7 linked regions of the Homo sapiens genome follow. The protein of the gene in region 1 purifies or fractionates together with the protein of each later gene. This does not show direct contact. Each region holds a gene or a part of one and is shown in the gene's direction. Other genes may lie near its edges. The genes, in order: RPA3, ACTA2, RFC1, SMARCAL1, POLA1, RFC2 and GEMIN5.

What was found.
Region 2: the proteins of RPA3 (region 1) and ACTA2 purify together in Homo sapiens (affinity purification with mass spectrometry, with the first as the bait; one large-scale study listed by BioGRID). This does not show direct contact.
Region 3: the proteins of RPA3 (region 1) and RFC1 purify together in Homo sapiens (affinity purification with mass spectrometry; 3 studies listed by BioGRID and IntAct, with this or other methods). This does not show direct contact.
Region 4: the proteins of RPA3 (region 1) and SMARCAL1 purify together in Homo sapiens (affinity purification with mass spectrometry; 3 studies listed by BioGRID and IntAct, with this or other methods). This does not show direct contact.
Region 5: the proteins of RPA3 (region 1) and POLA1 purify together in Homo sapiens (affinity purification with mass spectrometry; 2 studies listed by BioGRID, with this or other methods). This does not show direct contact.
Region 6: the proteins of RPA3 (region 1) and RFC2 purify together in Homo sapiens (affinity purification with mass spectrometry; 2 studies listed by BioGRID and IntAct, with this or other methods). This does not show direct contact.
Region 7: the proteins of RPA3 (region 1) and GEMIN5 purify together in Homo sapiens (affinity purification with mass spectrometry; 2 studies listed by BioGRID, with this or other methods). This does not show direct contact.

Annotation. Positions count from the first base shown.
Region 1 is NC_000007.14:7,712,108-7,715,607, reverse strand, and holds part of RPA3 (replication protein A 14 kDa subunit), read left to right. Parts: intron 1-381; 5' UTR 382-433; intron 434-3,500. UniProt on the Homo sapiens protein: As part of the heterotrimeric replication protein A complex (RPA/RP-A), binds and stabilizes single-stranded DNA intermediates that form during DNA replication or upon DNA stress.
Region 2 is NC_000010.11:88,942,774-88,946,273, reverse strand, and holds part of ACTA2 (actin, aortic smooth muscle), read left to right. Parts: intron 1-2,366; coding exon 2,367-2,477; intron 2,478-3,500. UniProt on the Homo sapiens protein: Actins are highly conserved proteins that are involved in various types of cell motility and are ubiquitously expressed in all eukaryotic cells.
Region 3 is NC_000004.12:39,286,956-39,290,159, reverse strand, and holds the end of RFC1 (replication factor C subunit 1), read left to right. Parts: intron 1-120; coding exon 121-312; intron 313-1,315; coding exon 1,316-1,399; 3' UTR 1,400-2,704; downstream 2,705-3,204. UniProt on the Homo sapiens protein: Subunit of the replication factor C (RFC) complex which acts during elongation of primed DNA templates by DNA polymerases delta and epsilon, and is necessary for ATP-dependent loading of proliferating cell nuclear antigen (PCNA) onto primed DNA.
Region 4 is NC_000002.12:216,474,984-216,478,483, forward strand, and holds part of SMARCAL1 (SWI/SNF-related matrix-associated actin-dependent regulator of chromatin subfamily A-like protein 1), read left to right. Parts: intron 1-285; coding exon 286-468; intron 469-2,125; coding exon 2,126-2,226; intron 2,227-3,219; coding exon 3,220-3,316; intron 3,317-3,500. UniProt on the Homo sapiens protein: ATP-dependent annealing helicase that binds selectively to fork DNA relative to ssDNA or dsDNA and catalyzes the rewinding of the stably unwound DNA. Rewinds single-stranded DNA bubbles that are stably bound by replication protein A (RPA).
Region 5 is NC_000023.11:24,990,918-24,994,201, forward strand, and holds part of POLA1 (DNA polymerase alpha catalytic subunit), read left to right. Parts: intron 1-3,284. UniProt on the Homo sapiens protein: Catalytic subunit of the DNA polymerase alpha complex (also known as the alpha DNA polymerase-primase complex) which plays an essential role in the initiation of DNA synthesis.
Region 6 is NC_000007.14:74,240,900-74,244,399, reverse strand, and holds part of RFC2 (replication factor C subunit 2), read left to right. Parts: intron 1-1,153; coding exon 1,154-1,254; intron 1,255-3,500.
Region 7 is NC_000005.10:154,896,712-154,900,211, reverse strand, and holds part of GEMIN5 (gem-associated protein 5), read left to right. Parts: intron 1-901; coding exon 902-1,021; intron 1,022-1,561; coding exon 1,562-1,772; intron 1,773-3,500. UniProt on the Homo sapiens protein: The SMN complex catalyzes the assembly of small nuclear ribonucleoproteins (snRNPs), the building blocks of the spliceosome, and thereby plays an important role in the splicing of cellular pre-mRNAs.

The DNA of each region.
Region 1 (3,500 bases):
CTCATTTGAATGAAAACAGAGCTCTTCTTTGTATTGTTCATAATGGCATACCCAACACCCAGCACAGCACCTAGCACACAGAAATATTCAGATATTGTCGGAATGCATGAATGTTTATATAATTTCATGGAAGCATTAATTATTGAAATAAGAGTGCACTTCCCTAAGTTACTTATCAGGGAACTAGCTTTGGTTATCAGTAGCTTTGAGTTTCAGATTTGGGAAAAAATTCATTAAATTAGCTATTCTAACAGCTAGCTATAAGGTCTATGGTCAACTCTTCTGCTACTACTATTCACCAAGATCATTGATGAAACTGTATTCATAAATCTGGTGAAAACTTTTCAGTTCTTATCCTACTTGTAGTTCACTTTGTCTCAGGTACTCAGAAAAAGGATGTGAAGACAATGCACAGGGAATACAATAGTTTCAGGTAAGTTTATTTTCTTTAACTGTTTCTATGCTGAAGGTGCATATTAATGGTGAGATATTCTATAATTCAGAGTTCATCTCGTAAAACACTAAAAAAAAGTATTTTTTTTAAGTTCTAAGATTTGTGGATTTGCCTACAACAAAAAACTGCAGTTGGTTAGTTCTAGTTTCATTGCTGCCTATGGCAACTGTAATTCCTCTGTAGTTTTTTGTTGTTGTTGTTGTTGTTGTTTAATTCTAGTGCCCCTGTTCTGCTTAGTTCAACCACATGGTACAACAGGTCTGCAAGTGTTACTATCAACTAAAAAAAAAAAAAAAAAAAGAAAAATTTTTGAACAACCAGTTCATGAGGAAATAAAAAAATTACTCTACACAAGTGCCCAACACCCTAAATCCTGACTTTCTCCCAGCTTCCAACCTGTTACTTGCTTTAACCTTCCCCCAGGAAGGTTTTCAGCTGAGGCCTTTATTTGCAGTTAGGGACACCTGATGGAGTTCTAAGTCTTTCTTATGTAAGTCCAACATATAATACATTGTACACAACCTCCAACTGTTTTAAAGCAAATGAGAATTTAAAGATATTTACAAATCAATCTACCACTGATTCCTAGATCCTAAGTCATCTCACCCACACCTAAATTGACAGCTCCTTTTTTATTTTAGCAATTAAACTATATAGATTATTTCTAAAGCATTTAACAAAGTTTCGTAGCTATAAGTACTCCCTCTTTATTCATGTTTAAGTACAACCTCTTAATTCATATTTTAATTAAATCATGCAATTATAATAAACAAGTACATACATTTAGGAGCAAACAGCTTGACACTTCAGCAGCACTCTGCTGGAGCAGCCAAAGAAAGTCTGCTCATCAGAGAATAAACTAGATGCTGTCAACATCCAAGGATTTATAGAAAAGTTGGAAATGCTGGTCAATATGCAAAGTCATATAAGTGGAGGTCAGTTAAGACTGATATGCTTTTCTTTGAGAAAAGGCCATGAATCAAGTCTCAACACATTTCAGGAATTTCTATCATTTGTACCACCCTCTCTGACCACAGGACATTAAATTAAAAATCTTCATCAAAAAGATAACACACAAAAAAACTCAATTTTTGGAAATCTTAAAACATTTAAAAATAACTCAACAAAGAAGTATTGACGATGAAAAACGTGTGGGGCAGGTGTGGTGGCACATGCCTGTAGTCCCAGCTACTCAGGAGGCCAAGGCAGGAAGATCACTTGAGACTAGGAGGTCGAGGCTGCAGTGAGCTGTCTGTGGTCACACCACTGCACTCCAGCCTGGGTGACAGAGTGAGACCCTGCCTCTAGAAAAAATTTTTTTAATTTTTTGAAAAGAGAAAAATGTGCAAAATGACAAACGAATGGAAATAATACAAATTAAAATTTGGAAGCTGCTCAATAGCATTTAAAGGGAAATACAGGGCATTATTAATGAACATATTAGAATTTTTAAAAGCTTAAAAATGATGATCCAAGGACAAACAACCAACTTAAAAAGTCAAAATGAAACTAACAAAATAAACTCCAAAGAAAATGAAAAAGGAAATAATTAAGGTAAGAGCAAGAAATGATGAAACAGAAAATAAAATGCAAAAGAGGAACAATACATCCTAAAACTGGTCTTTTGAAAACACTAAGAAAATAAATAGTAAAGCAATAAATAAACAATATTGCCATGGGGGGGAGGAGCAGAACATAATGAAAATCCCAGAGATTAAAAAATGGTAAGAAGATATCATTTAAAAAAAAAAAAAACTCTGTCTATAAACTTAGATTTGTTTGTTTGTTTGTTTTTGTTTTGTTTTGTTTTGAGATGGAGTCTCACTCTGTCACCCAGGCTGGAGTGCAGTGGCGCAATCTCAGCTCACCACAACCTCCGCCTCCTGGGTTCAAGTGATTCTCCTGCCTCAGCCTCCTGAGTAGCTGGGACTACAGGTGCACGCCACCATGCCCAGCTAATTTTTTTTTTTTGTATTTTTAGTAGAAACAGGGTTTCACCATGTTGGTCAGGCTGGTCTCAATCTCCTGACCTTGTGATCTGCCTGCCTTAGCCTCCCAATGTGCTGGGATTATAGGTGTGAGCCACCGCGCGCGGCCCTAGAATATTTTTTGAATGAGCAATCACCTAGAAAAATATCTTACCAAATTGACACAATAGGCTAGTCTGCAATTATCAACAAATTCATTCGGTACATAAAAGCTACCCACTAAAGAAACACGAGGCCAAGATAATTTTTACAGGTGAATTCTATTAAAATCAAATCTTATACCAATTCTAACAACACTCTATGCCTATTATGTTTCTACAATAAGCCTTTAGCCAACCAGGAGCAACCCAAAAAAACAAAATGTATTGTATGTAGTAGTTCACAATTGCAAACATTATAAGCATTCTTTTTACAATCAAAAGTGGGGAAAAGATGTTTTCTTTGACACTTCTCTTCAACATACTAGAGGTCCTAGACCATGCAGTAAGACCAAAAGATAAAATGAAACCACAAGGATTTGAATGAAACAAAACTCACTATTCACAGAGGTTATAATTACGTACTTAGAAAATTCAAAAGAATCTAAAGATGAATTATGGGAAGTAAATATTTTATCAAGATGGTTGCTACAAGTATCAGCTACATGTTTCTATGCTGGCAACAAACAGAAAATACAACTTTAAAAATATTTACTATAATAATAAAACAAAAAAGCACTCTAAGAATAAATCTGACAAAAGCAGAAATGTGATTTTTATGAAAAATGCATGGCAATTTTACAAAAATGTATTAAGGAAACCTAAGCAAATGGACAGAAATATATTTCTGAAGAAGACTAAATATTGTAAATATAGCAATTCTCCCCTAAATTAATCTATATGTTCAATAAAATTTCAACAAAAATCACATCAGAGTGGGTAGGTTTGAGTGATTATCCATCTGTTATTCATTTTTTATTTATTTGGCATAAGATCAACTGATGCTTCATTATATAGAAAAGCAGAGAACAAAGGAAGGTTGAGATGGTTTTAAAGGATGGTAATATAATGAGCTTTATG
Region 2 (3,500 bases), on another chromosome or scaffold:
TTTAATTAACAGTGTGTGGTGGCATGCAACTGTAGTCCCAGCTACTCAGGAGGCTGAGGTGGTAGCATCATTCGAGCCCAGGAGTTCGAAGCTGCAGTGAGCTGATCATACCATCAGCTGTTGCACTCCAGCCTGGGCAACAGAGCAAGACTCTGTCTCTAAAGAAAAGGAAAAAAATGTCCTTGCCTATTAGGTTTTATTAACTAATTAAAGGATGATAGTTCTGTAGATGAGAAGAGTAGCCCTTTGCCACTGCAGGGAATTAATCATCTGTTGCTCACGTCAACTCTGTTGCCCTCCTAGGACAAGCAGTGCATGAGCAGCAGCTCAGAGAATGAAAACCCTCCTTTCATTTTCATCAGGGGCTGCATGGTTATCCCTCTCAGTGCAATATAGCTAAAGGGGCTTGAAATGCTGGGAGTAGTCTTAAACAGCCCATTCTTGAAAGGTTTTCATTAACTCACTCTAAACATCTAAATTAAAAATGTTTTTGTTTTCACTATAGTAAACAGGAGTGTAACATTGCAGGTTTGGTACATTTCTGAATGCCTCTCCACACACTGAAGCACAAGAGCCACTGAAAAAAGCTATATGATAAATATTTTAAAAATTATTTATCTGTGTTGCATTACATGAGGCCTTATCTCCCAGACACTTAATAAAAGAGCTAATGAGAAGAAGAGCTAAATTCTAAGATTTTGATGTTTGGTCATTAAACATTACAGACACCAGTGATCAGAGAAAAAAACAGAAGAAATAATGAGAAAGTGACATAAAAAATTTTAAATGCAGCAAGATATATCAGAATCACGATATCTGGCCTTTTATTTATCTATCGGCTCACTACTACTACTACGCACACAATTTATCACTTAAAAGAAAAATACATAATGTTGTTAGAATTTATCAGCAGTAATGCTCCAAGCTCTATCTTTCTACAAAAATTTCATATCAGTAGGTTTGCTTGAGGATTCTAGATTTGGTAAGATTGCAGTTTGCACAGAGAAAAAGATATCAATATCAATAGGAAAATATTCTTTTAGAATTTCTCCATGGAGCTGACAACATCTTAGAATGTATCGTCCTAGACAGAGACTATTGGAAGAAAAAACTTTCCTTATTTCTAAAATTTAAATTCAAAGTATCTTCTGGTGGGGACGAAGAGAGAGAGAGGAGAAAGGTTGCTTGCTGTGACTGGCAGGATTTTTTGAGCAGTCTGCTGCTTTCACTCCACTAAAGAAACAAAACTTTCAGAAGTTTCATTTCCCTTCTATAAACCACAAATCCAAAACAAAAGAAAGTGGAATAAGATAGTCTTTAAAGCTAATCTTGGTTTTGCTAATTTGTAAGCTTTCACCAGCAGTTCTTGTTTTGCTCTGTTTTGATTTTGAGTGAATCTCATATTCCTGGCTCTGGTGGAGAATTTTCGTGCTTTTAAAGATTAATTAATTTAGTCCTTTTTGCAATGGTTTGTTCTTTTCGGCATCTAGGAATTAAAGAAAGTGCTCAACCATAAATAAATGTAGTTATGTCCAAAGTACCTTCACATAGACACACTATACACAGGCGTGGGCCTTTTGGAAACACCTGAAGGCCAAATGTCTGACTGTGAGTGGAAGATCCAGAGTGTGCTGATAGAGGAAGCTTTTCTCATCCCTCGAGAGCAAAGAGGGTGATGGAGGCAAGAGTCAGAGAGCCCTGTTCTCTTCTTCATGTACACTGCAAAGGGCAACTTCTCTAGAAGCATTAAAAGTGTCAATTAGGTTTTCAAGTAAGCGTCATTTATTCATATATACATTCATTTGTCTTTTTATTTACAAAATTAAATCATTTTCCCATGAACATTAAAATGGGAAGAGAGAACAAAGAAAATAGAGTTGAATAATAATAACATTGATTCTGGACCAGACACTGGGCTGGACAATAACTCGAGGGTTACCTTATTTATTTACACAAAGACCCGATGAGGTACACACTAATTATTTTCATCTCCCTATTACCAATCATGAGACTGAAGCTGAGAAGGGTTAAAAACTTGCCTAAGCTCACACAACTAAGAAGTGTCCGAGCTGGGCTTTGAACCCAAGGTTTGATCAAGGGTTGTGCCCTTAACTGCCATACCATCCTGCCTCACAGATCTGGGTTAGGGATTCTGCTCAGTCACTTAGTAGATGTGAATCCTTTGGGAAGGTACTTACACACTTTGAGCTTCAGTCTCTGCATCTATAAAACCATGGACACATGCATGAGTACTTGTAGCATTTCCTTTGGTCTTGGTTTCAAGTAGCTTCTGGTCCCTTTTTGGGAAATGCAGGACCTCATGACAGCACATCATTGTGTTTCTCCTCTGTCCCCCAACTCACTAGATCTGGCACCACTCTTTCTACAATGAGCTTCGTGTTGCCCCTGAAGAGCATCCCACCCTGCTCACGGAGGCACCCCTGAACCCCAAGGCCAACCGGGAGAAAATGACTCAAGTAAGTATGCTACCCCAGCACACAACACTGTGGGGTCTGGGGAAACTTCTGTTAGAAGGAGGCTATGCAGCACAGCAGAGAGAAGGCCGGAGCTAGGAGTCCACCAACAGACTAACAGCCTTCAGTGAACTCAGGGATCCCAAAGGACAGGAACAGCTTGAAAGTACTTGCATCCTTCCTGCAGGGACCAGCCCTTTGCCTCCAAAAGCAATAGGAAATTTAAAAGATTTCACTGAGAAGGGGCCACGTTTAAGTTATAATGTCTAAGGAGAAGTCACTTCAAAATGCAGCATCACATACAATAGGAATTTGGGTTCCAGAGTCAGACATATCTAGGTTTGAAAACTGGATCTGCCACTTATCAGTTATGTGACCTTAAAGAACTCCGTTAATTTCTCAGAGCCTCAGTTTCCTTGTCTATAAGTTGGGAGTAATATTAATACTATCATTTTTCCAAGGATTGATGTGAACATTAATGAGGTGAAATGACAGATGTGTATCATGGTTCCTAATAAACATCCAAAATATAGTACTTACTATTGTCATTATTATTACTTGTTTGAAGCTAAAGACCTCACAATAGAATCCCATCCAGCCCACCAGACAGAGCTCTGAGTTTTCTAGTTTGGAAGAGCTATTAAATAACAACGTCTAGTGTCAATTCTATACTTGTTATGGTCAAGTACTGGGCTCAGCATTTTACATTCATTGTCTCTTTAAGTTCTAGCAATGTGAAGCAGGAACTATGATTATATTGACTACATAAATGAAGAAATTGAGGCTCAGATACATTAAGTAATTCTCCCAGGGTCACACAGCTAGAACTGGCAAAGCCTGGGATTGATCCACGATCTTCCAGCATTGAAGAATCATAAATGTAAATAACTGCAAGGCCTTTTCCTCAGAAGAGCTCCTGGTGCTTGCACCAACCCACTAGCACTTGTTCTCTACAGGGGAACATCTGTGGGCCTGGGAATCACTGCACGTCGCAAGAGATGTTGCTTCTGATGAATTATTGTTCCT
Region 3 (3,204 bases), on another chromosome or scaffold:
ATACATAAATACTTTGCAAACAGTTGCAGGGGGCTCCCAGGGTCTCTTTAGGCTTACAGAGTTTAAAAGAATTGTTTGGGACTTAGATTTTTAAAAACTCCATCTACTCCTTTCATATAGGTGAAAGCAGCCTTCACAAGAGCTTACAATAAGGAAGCCCACCTTACTCCATACTCACTTCAAGCTATAAAGGCATCTAGACACAGCACAAGCCCATCCCTGGATTCGGAATACAATGAAGAATTAAATGAAGATGACTCTCAATCTGATGAGAAAGACCAAGATGCTATAGAAACTGATGCCATGATCAAGGTAGTATTTTAAGCCACAGACAGGAGAACCTCAAAATAGATGATCTTTCCTTGCCTGGTGAATAATAGGGCCTTTTCAGCACATAGCAGAATAACTTGAAAATACTTCTTAAGTTTTTTTGTTCATCATGGTTGAGGGTGGAGAAGGTAGAGATTTCATTTTTATAAAGTTTCTTATGGTAGTCGAAGAGCCAAACAGCAAGAAAACAGGCCATGATATTGACGGCCATATGTTCTGTTAGAAAAAGTACCATTTTTATTTATCTAGCCATTGGTGTATGCTTTCAAGAAAAATGTTTGTAACAAAACAGTTTCTTCTGTTGCTTATGTTTTGCTATAGCCACTAAACTGCTTTGTAGAAGTTTCTTAGAGCAAAACATTCTTGTCTTTTGATGGGAAATATGAAAACCAATTGTGGTATCAGCCTGCTGTGTACAGCTGGCTGAGCCAAGGAACCTCATCTGATCCTCCTCTGTCCTTCGCTGGGTGTGGGTGCTTCTTGCCCTTCATTTCTGTTTTCTGTATGCAGGAGTAGGAATAGTGGCCTTCTTCACTGTGGCTCCCATGTCGACCCTAACAGGTGGTCTTCCTCTCTCCCTCTCTTCTGCTTTCACAAAATGACTGTTTACACCTCTAATCTGAAACTGAAAGAAGAGGAAATTCTTCATCTAAACATTACCCTATTTGTCAATTACCTCTTGCTTATTTTGTCTTTCCTAAGTATACCTCTGTTCTAAATCCAAGAAACTGTCTTACATGGGGAACGGATCCTAGTTCTAAATTCTAAACTAAAAGTTTTTACTGCCAGCTTTTAAAGGCTGTAAGTGGCGCAGTTGTTGCTGTAAGCGCTTCATGGGTTGCAGTAGTTCAAGATCTCGATGTTTGCAGCCTCTCTTCTTTTTTAATTAAGTTGCAGGTAAAGATTAGATTTGTTATAGAGATGAACTTATTTCATTTACTCATAAACACAGCTATTAACTATTTTGTTATCTTCCCCCTAACAGAAAAAGACAAAATCTTCAAAGCCTTCAAAACCAGAAAAAGATAAGGAGCCCAGAAAAGGAAAAGGAAAAAGTTCGAAGAAATGAAACCATTTTTCACTAGCGACAGCCACTTTTTACTCTCCCTCCTGACCAGTCCAGCTGGTCTAGAGAAAGCCTTGTTTTTTCCCAGAGCAACCATGTTTTAGCATAATGGGATGACCTGGTGTCCCATTATAAATAAAGGGTGGTATGGCTAGAAGGGTATGAGCAGTAGGCTTATGTACACCTCTTATAGAGGTTGATAGGACTGCTTGGGTCCTCCACTGTCCTCTGTCAATCTAGTTAGACGTGCTTCTGAATGACTGTAGAATTGGAACTAGAAACTACACCTGGGCTTTGGAGTCAGATTTTAGTTAACAATAATGAGCCTGGGAGCAGTAGTACTAAGGCGTCTTTTGTAGGCTTAAGAATTTATCCTAATGGCCTTTATAGGACCAATGCTGATTTTTTTTAAAGGCAGTTCCTATTATGTGGTGAAATTTTGTAAATAAATGATTATACAAAACAGTCACCACCTAGAACTGGGTATTCTTTGTACATTGTCAGATATCTTTCAAAGTATAAATTAGGAATAAAAATGTTCCACATGATATGTGTACAAATTCTTTTTAAGATTGTCATCTTGTACAGCAAAATATTATGTTGGTATATTACTTCCTTATTAATTTGCAAATGATTGGATTAAAAAAGCTCACTGTATTCCTTACTAACCTGTTGTGTGAAACATAACATTGGCAGTCGAGGAGTCAGAACTCGGATTCCCAGCCTCACTCCCTCTGTGTGTGTTGACCACGTCTCTGCTGTGAATAGGATTTCATGCAGTGGTCTGTTATGGGGCTTTGCAGCGTGGGGGGCTGCAGAAGATTCTCAGACATTCTTATCCTTCTGGAGTCTCAACCCATCAGGTTCAGACCAGTAGGAACCAGGCTGGGTCAGGCTCTTAATTTCACTATGGTGGGGGACAAAATGAACACTGGCTTTTGTTCACTTTGCCCCTGAGAGATCTAGTCCTGTCCTGTGATGGCTTCCACAAACCCTGTTGGAAGTTTGGGTTATTCCTATAACTGTATGTGTTGAGTGGCCGTGAGGCTATGGACCTAGCCTGGAATTTAGATGTCTAGCTATTTTTTAATCTTGTTGGTAAATGCTCAGAGGTCTGTGCTACCTCTGTGAGGTATATACTAAAATGAATGTAAAATAAGGATCGTATTCCCTGCTTTAAGGAACTGGTAGTCTTGTTTGGGTGATGAGACAAAGTTCTTGAGACATTTAAACTGTATTTACCAGTGTGAAAAATGTCATTTATGGAGATTAATTCATTATGGAAATAAAACATTGCCTAAGCCCTTGCCTGCTGAGTCACGACCCTGTCTTTGTTAAAGTCCATCTTGAAATTCTTATGCTTCAGGAAAGGTTTTCTCACCAGTAGGGTGAGGCTGGCTTTCCTATTCATGTTCTTCCATTTCTATGCCTTTTGGATATGCAAGTCACGTCTCCCTAGGTCTTCTGCAGCCCCCAGGAGAGAGACTTGAATCTCCATGCAGCCAGGATGCGGCATAGTGTCCTTCACTTGTTCATTATGATTTTGTTTGTAATTTTAAATGTTTTAAACCCAAGATTGGGATAATATGTGTGTAAAATTAATAGCATTTCTTTTAGAATTAGAAATTGTAAATATGCCCTTTATGAGGATGGCATAGGTCTGATTCCTCTTTGAAGCCCTCGTGACCATGAGGTGAATGAGTGAGATTCATGGTAGGAGGCAGTTGGTGGTTCTGCAGCAGTTTGGATGTGAATCTGAATGGTCTGTATTGGGGTTGAGTCTTCATTGGAGCCACCGATGATGTGGC
Region 4 (3,500 bases), on another chromosome or scaffold:
AGAAGTCAGCATCCTGGCTGTGGTATTATACTATAGTTTTTATAGAATGTTACCACTGCAGGAAACTGGGCAAAGGCCTAAGAGGGATCTCTATTATTTCTTACAATGGCACCTGAGTATAAGCAGTCATCTCAATACCAATGTCAATTTGAAAAGAAAAGCTCTGAAGGCAGGGGCCTCTGCTGAGCTGGAACCTGGTTCTGTGCTGGAGCTGTGGCTGGGTGTGGTTTGCTGAGAAGCCCCCGGGGCTGTTGCCCACCTTGCTTCTGCCCCTTGTTCCTGCAGCACGTGCAGCACATCCGCATCGATGGCTCCACCTCATCAGCTGAGCGGGAGGACCTGTGCCAGCAGTTCCAACTGTCGGAGAGGCATGCTGTGGCCGTGCTGTCCATCACCGCTGCCAATATGGGCCTCACCTTCTCCTCGGCTGACCTGGTGGTGTTTGCTGAGCTGTTTTGGAACCCAGGGGTAAGAGACGCAGAAGACTCAGATACTCCCCAGGCATGCTCATGGCTGTGGGCAGGAAGCAGTGAGTGTCGGTCGGGGAAAGTGTGGTTTCCCTTTTATCCATTCATTATACTTCCCACAAGTCAGTTTTCACTTCCTTTAAGCACTTCTATGTTGATTGACTAGTCTCTTTTTTTCTTTTTTTGAGACAGAGTCTCTTATCACCCAGGCTGGAGTGCAGTGGCATGATCTTGGCTCACTGCAACCTCCGCCTCCTGGGTTCAAGCGATTCCCCTGCCTCAGCCTCCCGAGTAGCTAGGATTACAGGTGTGAGCCACCACGCCAGGCGATTGGCTGTTTTCTAGATTTTCACAGCAACCTGTAGGATTATCGACTCCATTTTATCAACGGGAAGGTTGAAGTCTTCCAGGGCTAGAAGGAATCTTGACTTCATGTCTCATAGGAGGAAGTTAGGGCACCGAGAGCTCAAGGGGTGAGGCAGGACTGCACTGCCATAACTGAAGAGGGCACTTGGTGGCACCAGGTTGCAGCCCAGGCCTCACGTTCCAGCCTGTGCCCCCTTTAGTAGCCATCATTGTGAGCTGCTTTAACAATGGACCTCACACAGAGTGACAGCAGTGAGGGTTTCCTGGACACCACCACTGGCCTCACCTGACCAACTGAGGACAGAGATAAGACATTTGTTTGAACTCTTAAATTTTTCTGGTAATCTCCAGAAAAGTTATATCCCCTTTAATATTTATATAATATTTAATAATATTGTGGTTTTTATTGGCTACACATAAGAGACTACATTAATAATGGGTAGACCTTGAGGGTGTAGCCATTTTATACAAGAAATAATGCTCATGATGTTAGGTGGTTTTTTTTTTCTTTTGCTTTTTTGAGACAGGGTCTTGCTCTGTCACCCAGGCTGGACTGCAGGGACTTACTGGCTCACTGCAGCCTTGATTTCCCGAGCTCAGGTGATCCTCCCACCTCAGCCTCCTGAGTAGCAGGGGACTACAGGTGCACGCCTCCATGCCTAATTTTTGTATTTTTTGTAGAGATGGGGTTTCACCATGTTGCTCAAGCTGTTCTGGAACTCCTGGGCTCAAGCAATCTGCCTGCCTCAGCCTCCCAAAGTGCTGGGATTACAGGCGTGAGCCACCACATCCAGCCCTTAAGTATTTATTATAAGGCTTACCACTATATTAAACCACCACCCTATGCCCAAATCATGGATAGCCTCTCCCTTGTGTGTGATGTTTTTATTTATTTAGAAGATAACTTTTTATTTCATACAGTGAAGAAATGGAAGTGTGCAGGCCTCCATCACCAGCCCCTCCCCATGCAGCCTGATGGCAGAGCCTGTGCCTCTTCATTTGCAGCACCTAGCTCAGTGCCCAGCACTGAACAGCCACCTGCAGATCTTCTGCTTCAGATTCCAGTTCCCCAGCCAGGGCTGTTTTGGGTTCTCTCTTTTGTTAAAGTGGCAGGTCATTTGTAGGTCTGAGATGGTAAAGTGCAGGTTATTTCTAGGTCTGAGACAGTGAAGTGCTTTGAGGAGGGAGGGTTGTGGTGGGACTGGAAATGGGGTGGAGAGGAACCATACCTGCTATGGTGGATGGAACTGCTTCAGGCCTTTACCTGCCTGTCTCAATTCCTGGACACACAGGTGCTGATCCAGGCTGAGGACCGCGTGCACCGCATTGGACAGACCAGCTCCGTGGGCATTCACTACCTCGTGGCAAAGGGCACAGCTGATGACTACCTTTGGTATGGCTTGGTTGGGTGGCCTGGCAGTTGGAGTCGAGCAAGGGTGGAAACTGATGATATGTTTACTTTGCTCCCAAAGTGCTTCTGCTTTTGCTAAGTAAGGTCTTTAAGGATCTATAGAAAATTGACTAGTGATGCCCTCCTGCTTTCATCATGACCATATTTGGCCTCCCTCACTAGCGTTCACTGGTGGCTTGCAGGGTGCATGCTGAATCTTATAGCAATAAGGGGTTGTGGCTCCTTTTGCTGCTGGTCTGAGGCAGGGAGAAGTGCTGATTATGACAAAATATAGATGGAATTTAGTTTGTAAAACACCCTGTTCCCAGCTGTGAAGGCATTTGTTAGGACAGGGTGACAGTCTTTTACCTTTTATGATGTGCATTTATCTGGTGGGCACATCTTACATTGCTGCTGCTGGACCACAGGGAGAAAGTGGCTTACCCTGGACTGTGTAGTGTACTTCGTTAGCAGAGCTGGAGTAAGATTTTCAACCCTAGGGTTTTCTGTCTGTTACCTAAGTGAAAAATCTCAAAAAGCTTCTTCCCCTTATCTCCCCCTTCCTGATACAAAATTTCTTGATTATCTCATTTGTTTCCACTGCTTGTCTCTGTTTCCAGCCTTATGACTAAGGAGTCTTCCCTTTGCAATGTGTGTGGGTCACTCCTACTTCCCCCTTTTTAGTGGATTTGTTAATTGGGCAGCTCATAATACCACCAGATTCAAAATTGTGTTGAAATGAGGCAGCATTTATTTCCTACACATCTTCCATTAGAAAGAATATTGAACCTGATGATATTCTTAGCCCTAAATTGGAGTTTTTACAAATGAGAGGGGGCAAATTTTTCAAGATGGGTGTTTGCACCTTGAGAGATGCAGAGATGTGAAACCGTAAACAAGCCGTTGTCCCATAAGAACAAGGAGGGTGGCCTCATTTTCATTAGTCTGGTGGTTCTGTGCAGGTTGTATTCACTGCAGCTCATTTCTCCCCAACAGGCCCCTGATTCAAGAGAAGATTAAAGTTCTGGCAGAAGCCGGGCTTTCTGAGACCAATTTTTCAGAAATGACAGAATCCACTGATTACCTCTACAAGGTAATGCCAGCACATGGCTCTTCACCCCTGGAGCAGAGGGAGGCATTAAGCTGTCTGCCAAGTCTTTGGGTCCTGAGTAGGAGGATGTGAATCACTCCTAGGGACCTCCCCCAGCCTAGAGCTGAAAACAATGGCCTGCAGTCATTCTCAGTTGAACCATGCATGCATCGCTTTATGGGGAAAT
Region 5 (3,284 bases), on another chromosome or scaffold:
CAAAAAATTATTTTATTCCATCTCTCAGTGATGATGACATGATTGCTTTTTGGTAATCATTTACCATTCTGATTTTATTTTTTGAAGTAAATTGTCTGAAGTAATAGGTTCTTGGAATTACAGCGTGCCTTGCTTTTTTCTTAGAACTTTATTTAAGCTTGTCTTCCAGCATTTAACCCGAGTCCCCTCTTTCGTTTGATCTTCTAACTTTATTTATACAACAGTGCTTAATGATCCTGCACAATGTGTTTCTTTTTTTTTTTTCCTTCTCTACAACCTCCCCCCCCACACCCACCCAAAAAAAAATTCTGTCCAGTATGGTTGACAGTACTTTTTATAACCTCAGCAAGGGGGCTGCATGGGCAATTTTCTTCCGACATGACAAATGCAAACACCCAAAACCCAACCCTGAGAGAATCACTTCATCCAGTTGAAAGGAAATTTTTTATCTCTTTCAAGGTGACTCTTTTGCCACTGAAACATGGTAAGGGGCACGACTCTTACCTTCTATTCTTGTCTATAGAAGTGGCATTCTTTACATTGCTTTATTCTGTCTCCTCCCTTCTCGCATCGGCCTCTGCTCTTCCCCAAACTTCCACTGAACAACCCTTCCTGGTAGTTGGGCCCCATGGCACCTCCATTTGCTTTGAGTGTGAAGGGTCACTGTTCACCACCACCAGGCTGCAGCAAGCCTGTGTTTATTGAACATGAACCAGACCAATGGTGGAGAGAATTATAATCACACTTCTAAATACTTGTCAGATCAGCCTACAGCCTAGTAGAGCACTTGAGCTAAACCATGGATATTTTATTCTTCTTGAAGGCTGTATTTTGGTATCAACATAAAAGAAGAAAAAAGAAAGAAAACTGAAGATAATTATTTCTAAGTAGGAATGGAACTGGATAGTGGACTAACAGACTCTTCAAGCCTTCAGAAATATTTTAGCATCTAAGATGTGATTTAATGGGTGAGAATGGTCCTCTAGGCATTGGCTAATTGATAGACACATTGATCACTGTGTGTGCCTGGCACTGTGCCTTGTGAATTTTTTTTTTCTAAATAAGAATTGACTCAAAGATTATTTCTTTTCATTTCTTACTTTGAGAAATGTTTATGTACTTGCCATTTGATTTGGGGCCCTAAATGTCTTTGAGTTTAAAATATGGATGTCACTTGAAATCTTTCAGGTACTGTGCATAGCCGGAAGCTCAGTTATATGGATCGATATTCAGGAAAAAGGCAGGCCAGAGGCTCCAGCAGCTCTCTGTAGGTCGGATGGCTCTACGTGTAGAGAGCGTAGAGGGGTGCAGTTTTCTTTCAAATTTTTCTAAAGCTTCCTGCATTCCACCCCTTACTGCAAAGCTCACGTTGCATTGAGGGAGGGAGGCTATGGATTGGAAAAGGTGGGAGAACTGAGAACTGTATGGTGGGAAGCCATGCAATTAAAAAACTGACTGAAATTATTACCTGATTTCATAATTGACAGAATATTTAATTCAGATATAGTAAATTGACACACCTCTACACAGAGACAATTATGACTGACTGTATAACACCTGACAGAATCAATTATAACTGACTGTTGTTTGATACCTTTGTACAGAAATAAATGAAACAGACATTCAGAACAGAGACGGCTGCTGCCTGTGTGCCTAAGCCTGCCTTAATTAAAAGAAAATAACCAGTAGGCGATGTTAAAATGTCTTTGCCTCGTGGTTTCTAGTTCAGTGTGTTTCTTTAAGTCCAAAAAGGGTTTTATAAAGAGTAAAGTTGAAAAGAGATTTTTGGTTTACTGACATGGAACTAAAATATGTGAAGTAGAGTTAGTTTCCTTAGATGGGAGAATACTCCATTATTTTAATAGAGCTAGCATTTTATTTGATCAGTTGACTTTTATATAAAATATTTAAGAAAGGTCAACCTACAGATGATGGTCTAGTTCATCCCATATAGAAAAGAATGTAACTTTCATTATTTTGAGGTTTTAGATTCTAATCAATAGAAATCAACTTTTAAATGAGCAGTTCATTTTGTAGTCTGATAAAATATTTTGTGAATAATTAGTATCTAGGCTACCCTTTTTTTCCATCGTTTTCATAGGGGTTAGGGACAGAATATTTTTGGTAATTAACATATAACCACAGGGAATCAGAGCATGTAGAAAGGATCAGAGTAAATAAGCTTTATATACACGTTCCTCGAATGTTATTCTCAAGAAAAGTTTAAAAAGGAGATTAGCTTTGCTGATGTATTAAGATGAGTGATTTCTGGGTGATACTTCAAGCCATTAGAGTATATTTCAGTGACGCACTTGTGTGTAGGAAGAGCATTTCCTCCCCGATCTCGACAAAGGTTGGCTTTGTGGTGCTGGTGGCGGAGACAGCAGTTACCAGGGCCAGTGGCATCTCTGTGGACAGGGATGGGATGGCTGCGGATCTTCTCTGGCTCTTGCCTAATGGCATGTTGGAATCTTTTAACAGTTGTTATTGGGCACCTGACCTGCAGCACCTGAGGTGATGGCGTCGTTACTGATAGGCTGACTCTCAAAATCAAAGCAGGAAAAGGAATCAGGGTTTTACTGGCCACATTAACTGGCCTCCACCAGTTAACACCTGTATTTTCCCTTGAGTTCTAAAGTGGTGGATATAGTATTGACAGAAACAGGGTAACAGTTTAATGTGAGGCCTAACGTGGGTGGCCCAGGTGCCTAAAGGGGGAAGAGAAAAACCAGGAAGGGGTGACTCCTTCCCCCCACCAGCCCCTGTCCCTGACGCAGCCTGTGACAGCTAGTCCAGTTCTGTTTCCTAGAAGACCTTCCATATGTTATTGATTAAATTCTCTTTGGGGAAGCAAGTGGGAGCTTTTATCTGCATCTCTAACTGGCGTGGAATGGTGCCTTGGCCGTATTGACTGGCTATGGGATATGCTGGCGGTCACAGTTGTCTTTTAGGAGGAAGAGCACCGAGTGACGCTGGTTGTCATTCTAACTCTGCTGTGTGGCAGCGTAAATAGTCCCCTTTCTAACCAACCTGGTGGGAAAAGTCAATATCCCATCAGCAGAGGAGGTAAACACATCAGGAGCTATGTCCTCTCTTTTCCTCCCCTGCTCCGTATTACCGCAGCTCTTTAAATGTGCTCTCCCCAGTCATCAGATGCATTTGTGTCATTCACATGCACGGGGTTGCTGGCCTGTGGCTCTGGCCTGCCGGGAGGCAGCCGACACTGGTTGGGGCCATTGTTGTTTATTCCCAGACTCAGATCATTAGAACTTTCAAATTGTCTT
Region 6 (3,500 bases), about 67 Mb from region 1:
GCCTGGGCAACAGAGCAAGACTCTGTTTCAAAAAAAAAATTTTTTTTTTTTAATGTGGCAGTAATTCATGTTCTTTGAAGAAAATTTAGAATATATTAATAGTTTGCTGCCTTTTTATTTATTTATTTTTTTGAGGTGGAGCCTCACTCTGTTGCCCAGGCTGGAGTGCAGTGGCATGATCTTGGCTCACTGCAACCTCTGCCTCCTGGATTCAAGTGATTCTCCTGCCTCAGCCTCACGAGTAGCTGGGACTACAGACGTGCGCCACCACGCCCAGACAATTTTTTTTTTTTTTTTTTTTTTGTATTTTTAGTAGAGTTGACGTTTTGCTGTGTTGGCCAGGCTGGTCTTGAACTCCTGACCTCAAGAGAGCCACCTGCCTCGGCCTCCCAATGTGCTGGGATTACAGGCATGAGCCACTATGCCTGGCCATTAATAACTTGCTTTTTTTCTTCTCTTTTTATATACTATCAATGTTTACACAGTTGAGATCATAATATATATAATTTTTGTATCCTGGTTTTTCCTTTTAATGTTGTAGGCATTGCTCTACATTATGATAATCTGGTAAACAGGCTTTTTTGTATTTTTTAAAATTTTTTGTAGAAATAGAGGTCTTACTTTGTTGCCCAGGCTGGTCTCGAACTCCTGGTCTCAAGCGGTCCTCCCGCATCAGCCTTTTGAGATGGGAGGATTGCTTGAGCCCAGGAGTTCGAGGCTGCAGTGAGCTATGATTCCACCATTGCACTGCAGCCTGGGTGACAGCAAGAACCTGTCTCTTTAAGAAAAAAAAAAGAATAAAAAAGGAAGAAAGAAAAGTTGGCAGCTGGTGTCATGATTGTTCTCCTGAATTTGTGTCATGAAGGACTGGAGAGAACCAATTCCCACAAGTGTGATGGCAGCCCTTGTAGATCGTGGTTTTCGTGAGTTTCACTTGAGGGTTGTTCTGATGCTGTAGGTACTAAATGCTGTTTGCACAGTCTTTGAGAGAGCGGCCTGCAGGTGTTAGCATTAGAGGGATGGCCTGCGTACTTCCAATGAGACCCTCATTTAGGACATTGGATGTGTCTTATGTCCTGGGTTTTTGTATAGGGAACGATTTGTGTCACATGGTCTCTGGGTCCCACTTGCAAACTTGTGTTTTTCTTCTCAGCATGACCGACGGAGCCCAGCAAGCCTTGAGGAGAACCATGGAAATCTACTCTAAAACCACTCGCTTCGCCCTTGCTTGTAATGCTTCGGATAAGATCATCGGTGAGTGGGAGCTTTCGGTGGCTGGGGGCCACGTGGTGCTCAACTGGGCTTTTTTCTTTTTTATAGATGTGGTCTCCCTCTTCGCTCAGGCTGGAGTGCAGTGGTGCCATCACAGCTCACTGCAGCCTCAAACTCCTGTGCTCAAGTGGTCTTCCTGCCTCAGCCTCCCAGTAGCTGAGACTACAGGCCTGTGCCACCACACCTGGATTTTTTTTTTTTTTTTGAGACAAAGTCTCACTCTGTCGCCTAGGCTGGAGTGCAATGGCACGATCTCAGATCACTGCAACCTCCACCTCCAAGGTTCAAGCAATTCTTGTGCTTCAGCCTCCTGCGTAGCTGGGATTACAGGCTCGCACAACCACACCCAGCTAATTTTTTTTTTTTTTTTTTTTTTTTAAGAGATGGGGTTTCACCATGTTGGCCAGGCTGGTCTCAAACGTCTGACCTCGTGATCGCCTGCCTCGGCCTCCCAAAGTGCTGGAATTACAGATGTGAGCCACTGCACCTGGCCTCGCCTTGGCTCTTTAGCGCTGGAAGAGTAGGGATTTTTTTATTGTGTAGCATGGGCCAAGCACTATATAATCAAGTTTTTAAATTTATATTTTTTTAATTGACAAGGAGAAATTGTATATATTATGCACATGTTTCCCATTGTAATCAACTTTTAAATTTAATCTTACATAATCCTATGAGGAGGTATTATTCGCTTCAGTTTAGAGATGAGAAAACTGGAGCTTATCCTGATGTTTAGGATCTAAGGAAAAAAGAGAAAGAAAACGAGCTTGGAGAGGTTGAGTAGTTTCCCCAAAGTCAGAGCAAGTGCAAGAGCAGCTGGGATTGGAGCCCCAGTTCTATCACCCTCTTGCACTCTTGGAGGCACAAGGATGTTGTTGATGTCCCCTGCACGGTGTCACGATCACAGTCGCTCTCCAGATACCTTCTTGTGCTATTCATGTGCTCTGAGTACTTGGTATAGGCAGTATCTGTACATTGGAATTTGTTGCCTCCGGGAAGCTCCTCTCTCAAATCCTGCAGTCCGTCTTTTCTCTAACCTTACTGTTTGCCCTTCCACCTCCCTCCCTGCAGCCTGTCTGCTTCTGCATGGGTTTGTCCCGCCCCAGGTCCCAAGAGTGCTCTAGTCTGTCAACTTCCTGCTGGTTTCACATCCTTCTCTTTCTTTTTTTTGTAGAGAGAGTCTCGCTCTGTCGCCCAGGCTGGAGTGCAGTGTTGCGATTTCAGCTCACTGCTATCTCCGCTGCCTGGATTCAAGTGATTTTCCTACCTCAGCCTCCTCAGTAGCTGGGATTACAGGCATGTGCCACCATGCCAGGCTAATTTTTGTATTTTTCTTAGAGACGAGGTTTCACCATGTTGCCCAGGCTGGTCTAGAACGCCTGGCCTCAAGTGGTCTGCCCACCTCGGCCTCGCAAAGTGCTGGGATTATAGGCGTGAGCCACCACGGCTGGCCCATCCTTCTCTTTCTGACACAGGCTGCCTGCACAGCCCAGCTGTCCTCTTTCCTCATTTTTCATTGCTCTCTCAGCCGCTTTCTTTGCCTCACTTCTGCCCTGCTGAACCCCAACCATATGAGCTCATCCATCTGACAACCCCCTTGCCACCCAGGCCGCTGTTGCCGACGAGCGCATTACCAAATATGGCACCCACAAAGTCATGGCTACCAGCCCTGGTGGGGCTCTCAGCAGTGTCAAGAATCCTTTGCATTCTTTTCCCTTCCCAAAATCGCACTGATTTGTGCATTGATTCATTAACCCATTCACCGAACGCTTAACTCTGGTTCTTAGTAGCCGCCAGGCACCATGCTAGTGGAGAGCTCGTGGAGTTTAATGAGAAGTATTCTCCACTTTGCAGATGCCAGCAATGAAATGGAGAAAAATGCATTCCTAGGTCTTGATTTGGCAGGGCACAGTGGCTCATGCCTGTAATCCCAGCACTTTGGGAGGCCGAGGCAGGTGGATCCCCTAAGGTCTGGAGTTCGAGACCAACCTGGCCAACATGGTGAAACCCCATTTCTACTAAAAATACAAAAATTAGCCGGGTGTGATAGCGTGCGCCTGTAATCCCAGCTACTCAGGAGGCTGAGACAGGAGAATCACTTGAACCTGGGAGGTGGAGGTTGCAGTGAGCCTAGATCACACCACTGCACTCCAGCCTGGGCAACAGAGAGACTTGGTCTCAGTAAAAAAAAGAAAGAAAGAAACTGGCCAGGCATGGTGGCTCACACCTGT
Region 7 (3,500 bases), on another chromosome or scaffold:
TCTTATTATAAAATACCCAAAAATACCACATTCCTTACTATCACCATCAGTCTCATCAGAAAATTCTAACTTATGGGAAACTCAGGCACACAAGTGGTAGGTACAAGTTTTCTAAAATTCTAATTTTTGCTAGAAAACTCGCATTTTATCATTAGTAACAAATACTGTTGGTTGTTTTTAATGAAGTGATAGGCCTACTTTGTTCATTTTTGAGAAAAACATCTGCCAAATACCCAACACTGAATAACTGTTATTTATGTTAGTCATTTTTTTTTTTTTTAGAAGAAAGAAGGTTCTATGAAAAAGCAGCCAGTTTAGCTTGTAATTTGTTCATACAGGTGTTACCTAGAGACAACCATTCTACTTTGGAATGCAGCAGAGAACACAAAATGTTCTTCCCATTTGTCACACAGAATATTAAAGTGTTTTGGACTTGACGGATTTAGTAAAATTTGTAATTTTTACTGCTTCATTAAGGGCATTCTTCCTTTTTTTCCACTGTAAGAGCCACCGCCTTCCTTCTTAGATGCCAGGTTTCCCAATCACTGCTTTGGCACAATCAGTGCAAATGTCAACACATTTTTTTTTTTTTAATAAAAAAGCACATAACTGACTCTTAGCATTGTTACGAAAATAGTTTTAACCTCATGAACCCTCTGAAAGGTTCTTGAGGACCCCCTAGGAATCCACAGACCACAATTTAAGAACTGCTGATCTAAGTGAAGAAACGAATGCAGCATATGTTTCTAATTTGTCTATATAATGCAAGTGCAGTTTTTAAAGGAAGTTGGAACAATAAGACAACACAAAAGGGACAGTTTGTCCTGTCTTACAGCCCCTCCTAGGACCATACACAGAGGAGCCTTTTCAGATTGGCTAAAGGGTCTGTTCTTGCCTTTAGGGAAGCTATTGCGATTGCCAAGGCCCGGCTGCGCCCGGAGGACCCAGTCCTGAAGGACTTGTACCTCAGCTGGGGAACCGTCCTAGAAAGAGATGGCCACTATGCTGTAGCTGCCAAATGGTAAGCCTGAGGAGTGGAGGGATGCTTCCAACATAGGAGAGCTTCTGCCAGGAAGGGGAGGACAAGAATACAAGTAATAAGTTTAGAGGTGGAGGTAAAGCAGCAAGGAATTATTTAAAAGATATGTATATTCAACTTAGTTTCATAAGACTCATCAGGAACTACTTCCTGATTTATTTATATAAATCACTATAACTATTCAAGAAAAACCTCAGCAGCAGATTAAGAAATTATGCATTTTTCTAATGGTCTCTTATAACATCAAATAAAGGAACCTCAACCCATGCTGGATTGAACCCAACAGAGGAGTCATTCCCTCTCATTTTCCTTATGTCCTTAACCTATATGATATTGTTTCTCATACACTCTGCTGAGTTGTGTTGGCCTCAGCCTTCACAGGAACAACCGGGGCAGTGACATACCTGGGACCACAGGAAGGCACATGCAGCAAAGTAGATAGAAAGAAATGATTCCATCCTCTAGGAATGGGAATAAAAATCTGTTTGTGACATTTTCTTCACATTTTTATTCATATTATAGCTATTTAGGGGCCACTTGTGCTTATGATGCAGCCAAAGTTTTGGCCAAAAAGGGGGATGCGGCATCACTTAGAACGGCTGCAGAGTTGGCTGCCATCGTAGGAGAGGATGAGTTGTCTGCTTCCCTGGCTCTCAGATGTGCCCAAGAGCTGCTTCTGGCCAACAACTGGGTGGGAGCCCAGGAAGCCCTGCAGCTGCATGAAAGTCTACAGGTCAGTCTGTTATTTCATCTCCTAGTATACAAGAGGGAAGTGTCCCAAATCCTTTTCTAGTCAAATCCAAGTTAATAACCCAGTTGCACAAGCTGTGCCAATTTGGCAGGCCCAGCAAGCCCTGGCCATGCTATCCCACTGAAGTACTATGACTTGTTAGTTGCCGTATTCAGAGTAAGAGATAATATGGTCATTCACAGTAATTCCCATTGCTTATCTGTTTGTACAAAACACCTGTGAGCCGGGCACAGTGGCTCATGCCTGTAATCCCAGCACTTTGGGAGGCCGAGGCAGGCAGATCACTTGAGGTCAGGAGTTTGAGACAAGCCTGGACAACATGGTGAAACCCCGTTTCAACTAAAAATACAAAAATTAGCCGAGCGTGGTGGCACGCTTCTGTAATCCTAGCTTACTTGGGAGGCTGAGGCAGGAGAATCACTTGAACCCGGAAGGCGGAGGTTGCAGCGAGCCAAGATCCAGCCTGGGCAACATAGTGGGACTCTGTCTCAAAAAAAAAAAAAAAAACACAAAAAAAAACACCTTAGTCAGCCCAGGCCTTGGGTTGGCAGTCTAGGGTTTCTTCATTGATGTTATCAGCACTGTCTTCCTTGAAGAGAGAATGGTTGGCCTCTAACAGAAATCATGGAACTCTACCTGTAAATGCCCCTCTTAACTGTAAGCTATGGAAAAAAAACTGGGCCAGATGCAGCAGATCGCTTGAGATTAGGAGTTCAAGACCAGCCTGGCCAACATGGCGAAATCTTGTCTCTACTAAAAATAAAAAAATTAGCCAGGCATGGTGGCACACATCTGTAATTTGGCTACTTGAGAGGCTAAGGCAGGAGAATTGCTTGAACCCAGGAGGCAGAGGTTGCAATGAACCAAGATTGTGTCACTGCACTGCAGCCTACGTGACAGAGTGAGACTCTTCAGAAAAAAAAGAGAAAAGTGTGGGAAAATGGAAATCTCTTTATTTCTTAAATTTTTTTGTTCCCATCTGATTAAAAATCAGTAACATACCACTGCCTTTTTGACACATCAAAACAGATTAAAGCATTGGCACACTTACCTAGTTTCTGAAACATGTAAACATTTGATTCACTTTAGATAACTTTGTGAGATACTAACAAGAGGTTTTTTAAGTTCTTCATTCTCTAACAGAGTACAGGGCCTACAGATGGTTTTTAGCTGAATATTTAGAGCCCAAGGAACGTGGTACATGGGGAGGTAGCTTTCTAGGAACAGCAGAATAAAAATGGAGGTGAAAATAGGACACCCTAAAAGATAATGCCACTGGGCATTATTTATAAAATGACCAAGTCTAGAAAGATTTTAATTTATCCACCATCAAAAAAAGTTTCCAGAATGACTGTTTAGCATTTTATTTTTCTCTTAAACAGCATCCTTAACAAAGCAAAAAAACCTAATAAGCATATGCTAAATATTCTGATAAGGGCTATTTTGGTTTTGTGCAACAGAGACTCTTGCAAGCTTAACTGAGAAGATATTGTTATAGGAGTACACAAGGAATCTCATGGCAACTAAAAATCTAGTGAAAGTAGATTTTCTAGGCCTTCTCTGTGCTTCTGTTTTCTTCTCTCCCAGCCAGCTTCCTCTATTAAACCTATTTGGACATGGCTCCTAATGCCTGTCCCAGCTCTTGGATCTGCAAAGCTTGTCTATTCCAGCACCTTTGGCCCATTATGCTTTTATTCCTGAGTCCAAAGT